Regions from separate parts of the Homo sapiens genome. Here region 2 is linked to region 1. Evidence: fine-mapped expression QTL. A gene starts in region 1. The other region holds a variant in brackets. All regions are shown on one strand. Distances are between the middles of the regions. Region 1 holds the start of NRP2 (neuropilin 2). Region 2 overlaps NRP2 (neuropilin 2).

Evidence for each region.
Region 2: its variant is fine-mapped to the expression of NRP2 in monocytes after interferon gamma (Fairfax 2014, PIP 0.95). The same link has a PIP of 0.9 or more in monocytes after LPS.

The regions. Positions count from the first base shown.
Region 1 is chr2:205,677,049-205,685,857 of GRCh38, forward strand. NRP2 (neuropilin 2) reads left to right here and starts at 5,453. Exons shown (of 17, transcript NM_003872.3): 1 at 5,453-6,315. The coding sequence starts at 6,243. RefSeq lists enhancers at 1,367-2,566, 7,448-8,078 and a silencer at 4,854-4,973.
Region 2 is chr2:205,739,506-205,748,314 of GRCh38, forward strand. NRP2 (neuropilin 2) reads left to right here. Exons shown (of 17, transcript NM_003872.3): 8 at 1,014-1,158; 9 at 3,698-4,047; 10 at 6,241-6,385. Among named protein-coding and RNA genes, the nearest start is that of NRP2, 61 kb to the left of the region's middle. RefSeq lists enhancers at 7,132-7,683, 8,650-8,809. The variant T/TTTTG (reference allele first, on the strand shown) is at 4,235.

The sequences.
Region 1 (8,809 bases):
GCCAAGTGGAATCTGTATTTTTTATGATAGGCTAGAAAAAGCCTTGTTGAAAAATATCTCCTCAAAAAGCCCTGCCAAGATGCCTGACATACTCATTAGCACTCGCTGTTTGGGAAAAGTACCCAATGCAAATACTATGATGATGGAATATCCATTGAAGCCCCATCCATGCATTAACAGTTTAAGGATAAAAGAGCATTAATTTCAACTTGCTTAGGTTGGCCTACAGAATTCAGACTAAAGCCTGTTTTAAATCCACGAGTGAGAATGCGATCAGGAAAGAGTCATAGCCAAAACTCAAAACCAGATAAGGTTAAAAATCATTCAAGTCAACCCATCATTCTGTAGGTGAGAAAAGTGGTTCCAAATTGGTTAACAGAATTTTCAAGGACACCCAAGTAGAGACTGAAGGTCCAGCTGCCCTGTCCTCAAGGCTTCTGCTGCCCCCACCTGCTTCTCCGCGGTGGTCTCCACTGACGAGTGGAGTTGAGGCCCGAAGCTGGGAGAGCATCATAAAGACCCTGACTCCTGGTGAGTGCTCTGGGAAAGTCATCCAAGAGAGCGTAGAAAGAACATGGGATGATAGACAATAATATGAATATAAGCTAGCTCTTCTCTTCCTTAACCAAACAGACAGTGAGCATTTTCAAATGCTGCCTTGGTAATCAGAACTTCTGCTGATACTGGGGTTCCTTTCTTGGCAAACAAGTATGGTAACCACAGAGATTGATAAGGGTGTGAATTTCTATGGGTTTCTATGGGAATTATTCAGCTCTGGTCTTTTGATTCTGAGGCTGAGTTGTCCAACATGGTAGCTGGTAAGCACATGCGGCAATTTACATTTAAATGAATAAAATTAAATACAACCTACAGTTCAGTGACTCACTCACACTAGCCACATTTCCAGTGCGCAGTAGCCATGTGAACAGCACAGAGACCACCGTCCTTGCAGAAGATTTAATGGAGAGTGCTGTTTTAAGGGAGAGGGTTGACTGGGTCTTTTTGATACGCTTATTGCCTCAAAGGTAGAAAAATTAATGTAGCATAGGAAGATCAGACTCATGCTAAAGCCAGGCAGACTGGAAGAAGCAATAGGGCTTCTTTAGGTTCTTTTTCCAAGGATTCCAGGGAGGTCTGAATGAATTTTGCACATTTTGCTGCTGCTTTTTAAATTTTGTTTCATAAGGGCCCCTCCTACCAGATCCAGTGTTTGTGTCTGAGGAAGAAATGAGATATACACCCAGTATGGAGTGAAGGAGATTTCAATACTTTATGGAAATCTGTAAGGATTCCAGAAACCCACCAAATAGAATATACTAGAAATATCAATTTAGAATAGAAATGTCAAATAGAAACTACTGGGCAATATTCAAGTGTGCTGGAAAAAAAAAAAGTTGATTGTTTAAAAGGCGAGTAAGAAAAAAAAAAAAACCCTTAGTGACCAGAAACCTGGACTTTGACATCAAACAAAAGAGAGAATAATAAATTAGGACCTATTCCATTTTAACTGAAGCTTTGCTTCTGAGACAGATGTAGCTAAACCTTAACTAGGGCAGTGTGTTAAATTACAGATTAAGATGCAATTATGCCTTAGATCTTTCCTTTTCAGGGTGAGAGCTTATTGATGTTAGGGCTCCGATAAGGGGAAGCACCATGTGACACGTGATATCTATTGTGGAAGCATGAAACTTCTGGAGCTTTTAGATCCTGTGTTCCCGAGAGGCAAGACCTAAATCTCTGTCTTGCTCGCATACCTCTGGCATAGTCATGCATCCATGAACATTTCGTAAGTACAGTGGGATGAACACAGATGGAAAAGCATACCTGAAACGAACCTCTAGTAACCACCAATGGTTGAGTGGGCTGGTGATGAAAGGTCTGGCTCCAGCTCATAAACCCATCAGCCGCTACTTTGAACATGTCCCTGCAAAGCTCCTGCCTGCATGAGGCGAGGCTTTTGGTGTTTTCAAATTGGCTCTCTGCAGTTGCTGCTAAAGGTCACAGGTAAATCTGGGAATTCCACCACTGCAGCATTTTCGAGAACTTGTTCTTGGTGGTTTTTCCAAGAAACCTGAAACATCTGCCCCATATTGAAAAGTACCCAGAGAGGAAATGTGAAGGAATGCTTGTCCAGGTTTCCTTCAACGGAAGAGCATTTATGGAAGGCTGTGTGTAAATAGAACACATCAGATCAGAAGTTCCCAACTACTGGTCTGTGGAGGCTTTGCATCAGAATCACCTAAGATGTGTGTTAAAAATACAGATTCCCAAAGACCACTCCAGACCCAAGGAATTTCACCTGCAGGAAAATGGTTCCCAGGAATCAGAATTTTTAACACTTCCTCCAGGTGATGCTGATATACCCTAAGGTTTGGGACTGTCTAGCTGGGAACACTTAACTTTCCACAGGGGTGTGGCTTGGTAACAGCTTTCTCTTAGCATCATTTACCAACCTGTTTCATGTTCCCCCACATCCCTTCCCGTCAAAGGAATGGAATGTGGAGTGGATTATCTAGTATTATTTTACAACTAAGGATAATGACATGAAACATCCTAGGTGAGTCAGTGATGTGGCCAGGAATCTCAGCTTCGCTAATTAGCTGTTATCTAGTCAGCTCAGTGTTTTTGATCACAAACCCGATTTTTGACACTGGCCTTTAGGTAGGCAGGCTTCCCTATGGGCCAGGGATGTGGACTCACAAAATACTGAAAAGCACGGTGCCTACCTAGCTCTTTACCACTATACCTCTGGTGGAAACCAGACCAACTGCAGTCAAACCCTGAGATCCCAGTCTAGAGGGAAACAAGACTGGCAGGTCTGAGCCAGTCCCAGTGTGAAGAATTTCCCTAAAGATTTGTTTTCCATGTGGCACATGTGAGATTTGTGTTTAGTTCCCAAGAGTCCTTGGAAGTCTTAGGTTAAAACAATTCTAAGCCCTCTCTGGGCCGGTGGGGTCTTGTTCAGAGTAGGCTGGGGAGAGATCGGCCTCACTCTGAATCTTCCCTGGTCTGATAAAGCACTTTGAACTCCTTGGAATTAAAAGCACCACCAGAAGTGTGACCCTGGGTGGTGTTACCATTATTTATTGAGTGCTGCCCCCTAGAGGATTGAAAAATGGTCTGGCCGCTTGAGTCCCCAGGGATGGAAACCTGAGACTCACTCTCTGTCCAACTGCAGGAAATGAGGCCTTCACTCAAGGGGAGTGGGAAGTCTTGCAGCCCTGGTACAGAGGACTCCCAGGAAGTAAGTGAGCGTCCCCTGTAGGACACCGCTGAAAAATGAAAAGTTACAGTGTAGGCAACCAGGCCAGGAACAAAACTGATTCTTACTTTTCTCTACTCTGGAAGCAGCCTGATGGGGACCTTCATCCCTGAGACCCCAAGACCAGAAGTCCAGGGTTGTCATTCTTATGGTTCTCCAGTGGGCTTAGGTTTACCTTTTCTCTCTTCTTTCCCCCTTTCACAGTGCCCTTCACCTAAACCCTGGCTACATTATTCTCACAAACAGGAGTCTCCCACATTGGGCACTGGCAAAAATGGTTTGGCATGCCTGGTGAGTGGTGGGGAGAGGTGATATTAAATGGCCCTCTCTATTCAGGGACTGTCACTACAGATAGCGTTCTTTGTCCTTAGATTAGCATCTTGGCAATGACATAAACCGGGATCTCTGCTTAAGGTTAATAATCCAAACTGCTCTTTTACTTTGTTAAATATTTAAGGCTTGGAGTCATTCTTTACAATTGAGCTTTAAAGAGGAGAAATGTAAATCTGGAGTTTTTAATAATGTGGATGTGCTCTCAAGCCTAGAAAGGAAGGAAGAAGGAAGGAAAGGAGGGAGGAAGAGGAAGGAGGGAGGCAAAGAGGGAATGAAAGGTAGCATTTAGGCTAGCCAAGAGACATGCTCCCTGGAAGAACTCAGAGGCCTCTGTGCTGTGCCTTTCCCAACCAGGCATCTGAGATTAACAGTGTGATACTCAGCCTGTGGATTTCCACTCTAAAATCCCGCGCCACCCCCCAACACAGCTTGGCTCAACTATTTGCAAATCACTTCTGATTCAATTTTGTTTTGGTTATCTCAGTGTAAATAACAGTTAAGTGGGAGTTACAGATTTTTCAAACACTAAAAGTGATAAAGCTAATGGGCAAGTCCAGATAAGGAGGGAAACCACCCAGAAGAATCCACAAGTACAAGCCAAGAAGAAAATGGGTAGTCAGGTGTGTGTTTCTCGTCACCGAAACTGTATTTTTCTTAATCTACAGAAAATTTTACTTTCTTAATTTAAAAAAAATCTTAATCTGTAAATATTTTTCTGAATTTTCTTATTTTTCATATACCTCTTTTGTGGCAGAAAAGGTGTACATGTGCAGGGTGTAATTTAGGCTGTTTCTGTTGCAGTCTTTATGATAATGTAGTAATAGGTGTCTGGTGAAGCAAGACAGTTTGGAATCCACAAAGCCATCCTCAGAAACAAAGATACAAGTGTTTCCCCAACTGTTAGCTTGCAGTTCCCTCTAAACAGTTTTCACGCCTCCATTTAAAAATAGTTGGCATAATGATGTTTTCTTTCTCTAGGCTTTGTGACCACGTTTCCATGGGGGAAAATGTGAATAGACGTAGTTACAGTAGCATTTGGATGAGACGCCTTCAAGCACCTATACTTTTTCGGGGGAACTTGATGGAATCCAATTTAATTACCTGAAGAAATTATTTGCTGAAGAAAGTCTTTCCTCTTTTTAGGGTAGTTACAGTTAAAGGCGCAGGGGTAACGAAATCCTAACCCAGAGAGGAGCAGAGCATGTTTGGGACATAACAAAGGATCTGAGTAGTAAACGCAGCGAGTGTTTGGGGTTTTATTCAGACCGGGCTGACGGTGTGTGTCGCCGCCACGCACCGCTGCCTGTTCGAACGCATGGCTGAGCTGCCGACCGGCTCGCTACCCCAAACACCGTACGCCACCCAACTCCTCTTGTAACGCCATCGCGCGTGGCATTGTGTTGGGTTCTGCGTGTGTGGCATCGGAGTCGTGGAATTTAGGGGGAACAAGGCTTTTCCCCCCGTCCCCCCGGGGTCTCCCTTGGGTGGGGGCGACACGGCCAAGGCGGCGCGCCCTGGGGGTGCCCGGGGGCGCTTCTTCCCCAGGGCGTTACGCACCGGCGGCCCGGCGCGGAGGTGCGCGGGGGCGATCGGGAGATGCGGGGCGGGCGAGGGGTGGTGGGATGGGCGCCGCCTTAACTTCGATCCTGCGGCGGCCCGAGAGAAGCCGTCGCCGCCCCGCCCGAGCTGGGTGCCGCGGCACTCTGCTCTGCGCCGCGCGTCTCCGCGGCTGCCTCTTTAATCAGGAACACAGAAGGGGCGGGCCCTGAGCCGGCGCGTAATCGGATAGCTCTGCCGCGGCTCTGACATCCACATGCTGCTCGGCCTGAAAAGGCAGTGGGGAGCCGGAGGGGAGGCAGAGATCGCGAGCGAGGCACCAGCCTGCAGCCGGCCCCCAGCACATCCTCAGCCGCACAGACACTCGGCGAGGTGGAGGTGAGGGCGGGCGCCAGCGAACTCGGAGAGGGGCTCGCTCACTCCCAGGCGATCCCAGCCGCCACCGCCGCCGCACCAGCAGCAGCAACAGCAGCAGCAGCTTCCTTCCTCAGACTCCCCTCGAGAGGCTGGCCAAGCGGGTGTAGCCGTTGGGGGAGGCTCCCGCCGGGGGAACCCGGCGAGGACAAGAGCAGGGCGGCCGCCTTCCACTCGGGCTGTCCGGCGGCGGCTGCCTCCGCCCGTGTGTCCGTCAAGGGTGCCGCGGGATGTGTGTCAGTTTACGCCTCTGAGATCACACAGCTGCCTGGGGGCCGTGTGATGCCCAAGGCAAGTCTTGGTTTTAATTATTATTATTATCATTATTGTTACGCTTGGCTTTCGGGAAATACTCGTGATATTTGTAGGATAAAGGAAATGACACTTTGAGGAACTGGAGAGAACATATATGCGTTTTGTTTTTAAGAGGAAAACCGTGTTCTCTTCCCGGCTTGTTCCCTCTTTGCTGATTTCAGGAGCTACTCTCCTCCTGGTGAGGTGGAAATTCCAGCAAGAATAGAGGTGAAGACAAGCCACCAGGACTCAGGAGGGAAACGCTGACCATTAGAAACCTCTGCATAAGACGTTGTAAGGAGGAAAATAAAAGAGAGAAAAACACAAAGATTTAAACAAGAAACCTACGAACCCAGCTCTGGAAAGAGCCACCTTCTCCAAAATGGATATGTTTCCTCTCACCTGGGTTTTCTTAGCCCTCTACTTTTCAAGACACCAAGTGAGAGGCCAACCAGGTAAGCCACTGAAAGTTTTTCTATTTATTGCAACATGGTTTCCCCTTTAAAAGTGACCGCTAAAGCAGGAAGGCCACGCAGAACGGCACAGAAGAAGGCTCCCTCAGTACTCAATAATTTAAAGAGAGATCCCAGCCGGCCCTTCCTACACCACCACGGCTGCTAAAACCCAACTTTCCTCTCCTGCTAGGAGTGTGTGTGTGTGTGTGTGTGTGTGTGTGTGAGTGTGTTTTGAAACAGAATTTGGCGGTGTTCATATGTCACATATGGACTGAATCAAAGGTTTAAAAATACTACAAAGCCTTTGCATTACAGTTTTTGGGAATTTTTTTTCCCTGTCTTGAAGCAGAACACATCTCCCTTGAGTTTCTCCAACTAGCCAGTGAAATATAAATCATTTGCATTCCCTCCACTTAGCTACATTGAGCAATGTTAACTGAAGGGCTTGGGAAAGACAAGAGTTTAGTTTTGGTTTTCAGATGCTGTAGATTCTTTGGAGAATGACTGGTTATGCTTCAGAATCATAAGGCTCAGGCTGGTGGAGCAAGTTGGCTTGTGGCTGAGATAGGGGCTTGGGGTTGGGTGCTGCTGGCAACCAAGACGGTTGGTCTCTTCTCTCTTCATCCATGTGTTGTCTGGGAAAGTAAATCGTACGTTCTTTTAGAAATTATTATTAGCTAAAACAAATTGCAGGCCCTCGAAGGTCTCTCACTCTTGTGAAGTGGTTAGAAACTTTTGAGTGGAATTTGTTCTCAACCACTGCCAAAAAGGGTGTGTGGACAGGCTGCTGTGGAGATAAGCATTTCGAGGCCCAGAACAGTCTGGGGACCGCATTTGTGGGGAGCGGCAAGGGGTATGCTCTGGAAAGGGGAATCCATGGGGAATGCAGTGGGGTTTGTGCTTCCTTCTCGGACCACTCTCTAGAGTGAGCCTCCCTACCCCTCTGAGAACAGTGTCTGGAATCTAACAACAAAACTCTTAGCAGCTGCTACAGGTGATTGGAGATGGAGAAACCATCTATGGAGGAAATGGGTGAAAGAAAGGCGAAAAAGCCTTCCTGAAGTGCCCTCACCCAAGGCACTTGCAAGGCGATGGCGGCAGTGGTAGAGCTAACTCTGCAGCCTCCTTGGCATCCCCAGAACATCAGCTAGTGGATCCTAGCCTTGCATCTGGTACTGTCACCCTTCCTTCTCCTCACGCCCCCCACCAGCACACACACCACTTTAAGCTTGGGCATTTATTTGAGGGGGGAAGAAAATTCAGGAATGCCTTTGCCACCCAGATCCGCACGTTTGCAGCTCTTTCTTTGCCATAAGTGGTCTTCAGGGCAGCTGCAAATCCTGCCAAAGGGATGGGTGGGGGTCCCACTTGGGGAGATTTTCTGGGCCTCCGCCGTTCCCCCTTGCCTTATTTCTAAATTCCCAGCTTGAAGCGGAATTAAATTACCACTCACAGACCTGGATGCTGCGTAAATTATGTATGTTTGTGTGATTCGCTGTGTGTGTGTGCACACGCGCGCGCGCCGTGAGGATGCCCACAGTATATTATGTATTCAGACACGGACTCCAGTAGGCCCCAGCGCGCGAGCGCGCACACACTGGCACTCACACTGGCGCGCACACACATGCAACTTCAGGTTCCGTGTGCTGTGCGGAGCGGGAGGGGTCGTGAAGACTCAGGGGCCATCTCCTACCCCAGATGTTCGCACATCTGTCCCCGAGCGCTGCTTGGAGTGTGTGTACGTGTGTGCGCGACACCCGCTTGGACCCACTCCCGCTCTGCCACCTGCCTGCCGCGCTCTCTGCAGAACCCCCTCCCATCCCAATCCCCAGCAGTGCTGCGTCACTTCCAGAGAAGCCCAGAGGCGCGGAGTTCGGGGCAACCTCGGACCCGGGGTGGGATCTCAGGGTGGGATTCGAAGCTGGGACCTGCCAGGGACCTCCAGCTCCCCAAAATGCGATCTCAAGCCGTGAGCTGCTCAGGCTTTCAGGCGGAGCAAAGCACTGGCACCCTGGGAGCCGGCAGCGGGTGGCCAGGGCGAGGCCAAGCCACATACCTCTGACTCACCCGGTGTGCGCCGGCCGGGAAGGGGGCCTGGTTCAGCCGCCGCCGCCGGCGACGAGAACCAATTCTGGGAAGGAGCAAGATGGGGCAGAAGGTGCGCGCGGGGGAGCAACTGAGCAAATAACACGGCGGTCGCGGCGCGCGGCACCTTGGGCTGGCGCGTGGCTGGGAGGCCGCATGGGCGACGCGCACCAGGCTGCCCCTCTCCTCACTGCGCCGCCTCGCCAGACCGCAGTGCAGCCGCTAGCCTGCCTCCCTCCCTGCCCCGGGCGCCCCCGCCAGTCCCCTGCGCTCCGCTCTGCGCGGCAGGCTCGCCGCGACCCCTAGAGAGACGGCTTTGAGTGGCGGGAGGCCGAGGCCGGCTGGCTTGGGAATCCAAGCGCTGGCCCAACTAGGTGAGAGGAAACTGGGGTGGGATTTCGGAGAGGAG
Region 2 (8,809 bases), 62 kb after region 1:
CTAAGCAGGAGAAGTCGCTGATGGTTGCAGAGTTGGCTGTAAGTAGATTTACAGAGTCCCTTGGTTGTTACAGCTATGACAGAAATGATTTAGAAGTGATGGTTGGTTAGTTGGTTTTTCCCTCTACCCTTATTCAGGAAAACCAAGGGAAACTCACATATACTTTGCTCTAGTTACTTTTTTTTTTTTTTTTTTTTGAGCAGAGAGCACAAAAAAGCATAAGGTCCATATGGCAGTTATTGATCTGGGCCATCTGGAAAGCCAGGACTTGCTCCCACCATGTAGGATCAGAAGCTGTTCCAAAAAGCCTTCCCTCCCATAAGAGATGTATTGGTCAGATGGGGACAGGGATGGATTTCATTACAGGGCAGGACTACAGTGAGAGGAAGCTGGAGCAGGACTCTGAAGGACTGTCTGCAACCCTGACCCTGCCACAAAGATCAGAGAGAACCAAGAAAGTGTTGATTGACACAGGGCCATTGTAGGTAGAGGGTGCCCCTCATCATCTTGTCCGCTCATGGGTGGGATGGCATCAAGTAACTAACAAAAACAACCGTGAAGCACTTTGCAATTAGAAAATGCTCTGCAAATATTCCTAGGTGCCTGCAACATGAGGAAGAGGGAGTGTCAAGTTCAAGCTAGTGAGTGAGGTCTGGTAGCCCTAAAAGATGATATTTTTACTTCATTTTAAACAGATATTCTACTTTTCTCTTTCTTCCTTAGCTTCTCAAGTGTTTTCCTTCTTCTGCCTGCTCTCAGCCTGGAGGCAAAATTTTCCTTCCCTCTAAAAGTTTCTGGGAAGACCACTGATAATTTTCAAGTAGAACAGTGTGAGAAATTAATTTTTTTTACAGTGTTTCTTTAAAAAGCCCAAAACAACATACCCACTGATTATTTTTAAGCTTGAGGGAAAGAAAATTTGACAGAACTTTCCCATCCCCTTCAAAGACTGCTCAAGTGGCTGAACTACAAACAGGGGTTTCAATAACATGGTTTTGCATCTTACGCTACAGGTATTTCAAGCCAACAACGATGCAACTGAGGTGGTTCTGAACAAGCTCCACGCTCCACTGCTGACAAGGTTTGTTAGAATCCGCCCTCAGACCTGGCACTCAGGTATCGCCCTCCGGCTGGAGCTCTTCGGCTGCCGGGTCACAGGTGAGGTGGGGGCTCCAATGAGGTTGGGGTGCTGATTGAGCCCTAGGCTCTGCTCCCTTTCAACTCTCTGCAAACAGCATGACTGCACCACATGACCTTCCCAGAAAGACTGGCTCAAGGACTCAAGTCCTACCAGAGTTTGTCTTTTCATTCATTCATTCAGTATACATTTATTAAGCATCTACGATTTCTATTAATAGCTAACATTTATGGAATGCTAACTAGGTACAGATGCCATTCTAAGCACCTAAGATGTAACATATTTTATTATCCTCATAAGGACTCCATGGGTATTATTCTCCTCACTTTACAGATGAGGAAACCAAGACTTAAAGAGCTAGGTCACTCACCAGTAAGTGGTAGAGCCATGGTTTGAATCTAGGCAGTTCCAGTCCAAAGCCCTTGCTTTCAAATAACACTCTCTGCTGCCTCAACCGGGGGCCAAGAGCTGTGCATGGTGCTGTGGACACAAAGGTGGGCACAACAGACTGTTCTGTGTGGGCATATGGACAAGTTGGGCAGACATACTGATAAACTCATAAATAAATATAAAATCAAAACTATGATCAATGTCTGGACATAGAGGCTTATGGTCCTTGGAAGTACATCGTAGGGGATTTGACCCAGCCTAGGAGCTCAAGGAAGACTTCTTTGAGGAGGTGATGATTGAGGTGAGGTTAGAAGGCAAATAACAGACATTACCTGGTGAAGAAGGGAGGGAAGGTGCACCAGGCAATGGTCACAGCTTTCTCAATGGCACGGTGGCAAGAGGGACCAAAAGAGGAAGTGAGGAGCATGGACACAGCTTGTGGGCTGAAACCCAAGGCATGTAGATTGGAGAAGACCAGAGTGGGAGTTGGGACATTATAGGAGGCAATGCAGGGGGTGCAGATGGGAGATGATGATGGCTGGATTAGCCCCAGAAATTTATGGACAGACCAATCCCCTTTATCTTGTGGGCTCAGCCCAGGGCAGGCAAGTTGCCTCTTTGACCTGGAAGTGTCTTCAGTGTACATCCATCCACGTGCCTTTCCCCTAATCATTCCAGCTCTGACAGGGAGTGCTCCAAGGTCTGACCCTGTTTGAGGTTTCTAGTTAAAACACCTTGTGTTTGTACAGTCTCTGCATCTCCACATGCCTTTCTTGTTTATCATCTTGCCTACACTTTCTAACAACCCTGTGAGGTAAGGTGGGCCAGGGACTGATAAGGAAACCAAGACTCAAAGAGGCTAAATAGCTTGCCCAAAGTCATTCAACTAGGAGGTGACAGAGCCAGGATCTGAACCCACGTTTTCTCAATTCAAATTCTCTGCTCTTACCACATTTACACAAAGACCCATTTTCTTCTAATGGGATCAGTTTATGCTAATCCTGTCTAGGGGACTATTTTCTGTCCCTTCCCTGTTGCTGTTCCAGGATAATCAGCAAAGATTTAGGTAGAGGTCATTCTCTGGAAGATTGAAAGGAGAGAACCAGTGATTTTGAAGAAGGGGAACAACGTGGAGGATCTTTTTTATCCATAGCTCAGTTTGCAAGTATGAAATGCACATTGACTATAGACCCTGCCTTGCCTGACATCATTTATTCATGCATTCTCCACTCAATCATTTGTTCCACACATCTGATGTGCCAGGCACACACTGGGAATGGGACATAGAGACAGGAACAAAATAGATGGGGTCTCTGACATCGTAGAACTTTCAGGCTACTGAGCAAGATAGATAATAAACAAATGCAAGTACTGGATAAACTAGAATGTGCACATGAAGGAAAAGAACAGGGTGCTCTGAGGGAAACCAATTTAGTGAGGATTGAAAATTTGGGAACAGCTTTTCTGTGGATATGACACTTGAGCTTGGGGGTAAGAAAATGTTAGTCTGGGGGTGACTGAAGGGAAAAGCATTTGGGGTAATGGGAACAGCATGTGGGAAGGATCCAAGGCAGTAAAGAGCAGTTATTTGGGAAGTAAAGACCTGATACTGATGCCAGGAAGGTTTCCTTCTACTTGGCAAAACAATTACTAGGAAATAATTCAATGTTTAGCTCAGTTCCCCTGTTCTCAGTGTCCCTGATAGGGTCAGTGGGGACTAGTGTCATCGACAGGGATGTGCAGACACACATTCTGAGAGTCCTTGGTTAGAGCTGTAAGCACAAATAGTTAATGGCCATTGGATACTTAAATATGCCAGGCACCATCCTGTGAGCTCTTAGTAACTAACAGAATCCTTGCAACAGCCCTCAAGAGGTAGGCACCTCTATTAGCTCCCCTTTAGATCTAAGGAAACTGAGGCAAAGAGCAATTAAATAATTTGCCCAAGGCCCTCTGACTAGTAAGTGGCAGAGTGAACATGAACACAGGCAGTCTAGCTCTGAGTCCAGGCTCTTAACCACAGTGCTGTACACATTCACCATGCAAAGAAATTAGTGCTGACTTAGTATTTGACAGTTGGGCTCTTTTGCAGCTCCCTTCTTATAGCGGGTGGTCCCTGGTTAGCAGGTGTCAGCCATGACCTCTTGTATCTTCCTCTCCTCTCTGCAGATGCTCCCTGCTCCAACATGCTGGGGATGCTCTCAGGCCTCATTGCAGACTCCCAGATCTCCGCCTCTTCCACCCAGGAATACCTCTGGAGCCCCAGTGCAGCCCGCCTGGTTAGCAGCCGCTCGGGCTGGTTCCCTCGAATCCCTCAGGCCCAGCCCGGTGAGGAGTGGCTTCAGGTAGATCTGGGAACACCCAAGACAGTGAAAGGTGTCATCATCCAGGGAGCCCGCGGAGGAGACAGTATCACTGCTGTGGAAGCCAGAGCATTTGTGCGCAAGTTCAAAGTCTCCTACAGCCTAAACGGCAAGGACTGGGAATACATTCAGGACCCCAGGACCCAGCAGCCAAAGGTAGGCTGTTCTTGGAGGCCTCTGTAACGTTACCCTCAACAGGGAGGCTAAGTGTGGTACAGGGAGTTGAGACTGATGATGTCCCATCTAAACAGTCGTCATCCAACTCCTGAAATCCAATAAAACAAATATCGTTTGAGAGATTACTTTGTGCCAGGCACTGTGCTAAATACCTTATTTCTGACTC[T/TTTTG]TTTGTTTGTTTGTTTGTTTGTTTTTGAGATGGAGTCTCTGTCACCCAGGCTGGAGTGCAGTGGCCTGTTCTCGGCTCACTGCAACCTCCGCCTCCAGGGTTCAAGCGATTCTCCAGCCTCAGCCTCCTGAGTGGCTGGGATTACAGGTGCCCGCCACCACACCTAGCTAATTTTTGTATTTCTGGTAGAGATGGGGTTTCACCGTATTGGTCAGGCTGGTCTCGAACTCCTGACCTCAAGTGATCCACTTGCCTTGGCCTCTCAAAGTGCTGGGATTATAGGCATGAACCACCGCGCCCGGCCTGGACTCTTTTTTAATCGTTACAACATCTGTGCAAAGTAGATCTTTTTGTCACTCCCATTTTAGAGATGATAAACTGACACTTGATATCATGCCCAGGGTCACACAGTTCACCTGTGATAGAGCCGATTCAGAAACCGGAAGTCTGACTCCAAAGTCCAGATGCCTAACCCCTACTGAACACTGCCTTTTTATAAAGTTCAACACTCTTTATACACTCTTTCAGATAAAGTTTCCTTGAAATTGGCCAGACATCTAAAGGGGATGTGGTTTTTGGAGGCCAAGCTATAGAAACTAGAGGATGACTTCCAAAAATAACGATGTTTTTCTGAATGTCGCTGCATTCCTTTGTATTCTCCTAGTTTTGACTGCTTAGATCTTTCCGGCCTCTCAGACTGAGGCAAGGGAGAAGCAAGAGAAACTCACCCCGAGCCAGAAGCTCAGGCCAGTACAGCTTACTCCCCTGCCACCAGAGTGAAGGTCAGCCTTCAACACAGACACAAGGAGCCCCAGAAGGGGAGGAGACGTCATACCTCTGTCCCTCCCCAGATCAGTCTCCTGGCAGGCCAGGCTCTCTGATTCTTATCTCTAGTTACCCCTTGTTTTTCTCAAAAGAACAGGTCCCTAAAAAAGGAGGGAGTTTGCATGTCTCGGGGCCACCTTTGCTAAGCAAATGTCTCCATTCTGAATACAGAGGCAAGAGTTGGGTTGGAGGTTTTGCGATGCTGAGGTAAACTCCCAGCTCTCAACTCCAGAGGCTTAGAAAGGCTCAGGGCTTGGTAACTGGAACCTTGCATCGATGGAGCAGAAGTTGGACCGCAGGCTTCCCCATGGAGAGCTGAGCCTGGTTTTTCTTGGGAAAGAAGTTGATCTTTGCCATTGTGGGAGACAGCCCTATCCGAGACAGTGCTTCTGGTTCAGAATTGTGGACGCAGGGCATCCTGAAAACTGGAGCGGTCCTGCTGAATTTCTGGGGGCTAATCAGCTGCAGGCCCTGGCCACCCACTCCTGTCCTTCCCCCGGATGAGTGTCTCCAAGTGTACTCTAGGCTGGTCCTCCAAAGCAGCCCCCTGCTCCCCGCATCATCAGTTTTATGTACTGGGGCTCCATGTGAGGTTTCTTTTGACAGGAGTGCTTTCCCTAAACAAAGGTTTGGGAAACAGTCTAAGACTATCGATGTGTGACCAGAAGACAGTGTCATTGGCCTAGGGGTCATTTTCCCGTAAGGTTCTCAGTGAGCTAGGAACTATCAGTCAGCTTGGGTTACCTCAATGGAGGCTTTCACACATTAGAAAAAGAAGTGTTCCTTTCCCTGTAGACCAGGAATTCAGAACGGTCAAAGATCGCCCAAACTGCCTTCCCCCCTCTCTAGCCAAAGTCAGCTGAAAACGCAGTTGGAGCCAAATTCTTCCCCAGATACTCCATTTTAGTCACCAGGTAAAAGACACAACCTGGAAATTGCCACCTTTGTTTACTTCCTATTTTCCATAATTCTGGGTCCATAACCACCTTCCAAATGAATAAAATCCTTGGTCTGAAAATGAAGCTCGCGTGGATCAGAATGTCCCAGTGACCAGGAATCAACTAGGAAGCTGCCTTCCTAGCAGGACGTGCGGGGCAGGGAGGAGAAGGGGAAGGAAAGGGAAGAAGGTGATAGGGACTGGGTCCCACACCAGAAGGGCTGAGTGGCCTCTCTCCCTGCAGCTGTTCGAAGGGAACATGCACTATGACACCCCTGACATCCGAAGGTTTGACCCCATTCCGGCACAGTATGTGCGGGTATACCCGGAGAGGTGGTCGCCGGCGGGGATTGGGATGCGGCTGGAGGTGCTGGGCTGTGACTGGACAGGTAAGATGACATTTCCTCCTCTTTGCATCTCACCCACATGGTCCTCTGACCCTGGCATCCCACGAGGCCCTGGGAGGGCTGTGGAGGGGGCAGCCATCCCAGGAGCTGGAAATGCTGCAGACCCCTGCCATGTTCTCCTGCCTCAGACCACGGGTACTGCAGCCTCTGGACTTGGGACAGTTTCTCAAGGGATGTACTTTGTCTTTTTTAAGGGATCATTTCAGTTCTCCAACCCGAGTCTCTCAAAAACAAATCATAACCACACACCACCCACCCAAATTCAATTAGACCCTGGCTCTTCAGGCCAGAGGGCTGTGGCTGTTGATTTAGGGAAGAAAAAAACCCCTCATGATAATAAAGTAATCGGTTTATGTCTGAATCTGGCCTCCAGATGTCAGTGGCTAAGAGACTTCATTTTCATTTCGGAGCCACATCTGTAAAAGGCATTTATTTGCTCAGGAGGGACCCTGTTGCAGGGAGCTGATGGGGGCAGGACTCCTTCTCATTGTCCTGCTCATTCCTGCCAGGTGGCCCAGGCCTTGGGGAACACCTCTCATCATTCCAAATGAGGGTGAGGCCCACGGAGGGTGCCCAGCCTTCCTGGTTTCCGAGGGAGGGCCCTGCCCTTCTGAGTCAGGCCCTACCTTCCTTTCCTTGGGTCGCCAGCCCTCCTCCCTCAGCAGAGCTGGCACCAGATCTTACCCAGAGCTCACTCACTGCCTGCCAAAAGGAGTTTGTGGGAGCCACTGGGGCTCAGGGACTGAGCCTGATGCCAGCAGGAGCAGCCACCAGCCTGAGCTATCCTGCCCTCCTCCGCCAGAGCCCCAGGTATCCCCATTTTCCTGTCTGTGCCGTACCTGTCACGGGCTCAGCCGGCAGGATGGCATGAGGGATTAATAAGGGCATGTCGGAGAAGTGCTTTTGGCTCCCAGGGAGAAAAATGCTGCCTGTATGCTGGCTACAGCAGCGCAGAGGAGCCCTGTTGAGGCACACGGGCTGGGAATTGGGCCCAAATTAGCCTCCTCACTTTTGAATTGAAGGCAGCCCCAGCGAACACATCTTCATAGGAAGACACTTAACTCCCCATTACCTGGGGATGAGGCCAAAGTTCCCTGCAGCCTGCTAAACGTGTGTCACCCGTCCTCTCACAGGTGCAGAAAACCTCCCCCCGATACAAGCTGGCTTCATTTATGTGCCCTGGAATCAGGGGCTCAGCGCTGTAGGGGATCCAGGAGCTTGTAAGCCAGTGGCTTTCACACACTTCTGCCCATGATACACAATTTAAAATAATTTTCCTTCACAACCCGCTTCACTTATAAGCACTCACACACAGTGGTGTATACGGGGTACAGTGTATGGGTAAGTGCTTGGACTCTGGAGACAGATTGCCAAGTTCAAGTCCTGCCCCTGCCATTGGCTGGCTGCATAACCTCAGAAAAGTTAGTCTCTCAGCGCCTTGGTTATCTTAGCTGAAAAATGGAGAGGACAATAGTCTGTCTACCCCATAGGGTCATTGTGAGGATTAAATGAATGAATGGATGTGAAATACTTAGACTACTGCCTGCACCCAGCAAACCTGTTATGATAAATAACTGTAACTGAAACAAAAGGTTCCCAAAGCAATGGTCATCTTAACCATGGAAGTGCACTCCAAAATATTATAGTCGGTATGTTTTAAAAGCTGGTCATGACCTATTCGACGGATTCCACAACCCAATGATGAGAGTGATGCGTGGTTTGGGAAATATCACAGACCTGGGCCAATTCCTCTTTCATAGACAAGGAAACAGCCCCAGAAGGTAGAAGTCACTTGCCAGAGGTCACTCAGCTGGATGAAGTCCACCTCATTCTTCCCCCCATCCCTTGCCCTTCAGTGCCATGCCCTCCCAGTCTGGCCAGTGGGACAGTTGCTAATGACCTCTTTCCTTCATTGCTCCCCAATCCCAACATGCCCCAAATTACACTGGTGATGGTCAGTGACAGGTTTCTTATTTCAAAGCCCTGCCTGGCCATTCCTTGGAAGATCAGAGTTGAGGAGCGTTCCCCTCTGCCCAGCCTCCTTTCCTTTGAAGTCTCTGACATCTGGTTTCAATTTCAGGGGTAGCGTTGCTGTTTGATGGGCAGTTACCTTGGAGCACCCAGTACAAACATAGTACAAACAGTATAAACACCGAGGCCTCGGTGCCCGCCGTTCCTCCACTTTCATTTACACGCCCTGCCCTCCGGTGCCTCATTGGCCCCTGGGTTTAACATTCTTTACACCAATCAGCTGACCCATTTTGCTACCTAACATTTCCAGAAACTGTTCTCCATAGGTCACGTGGCTATGTTTGCTTTTCGAATTTCCATCTGTTTCTCACACTCATCTTCGGTTCACTTCTTCATCCCTATCCCAAAGGATAACAGGAAAAATAATGGGCTGGG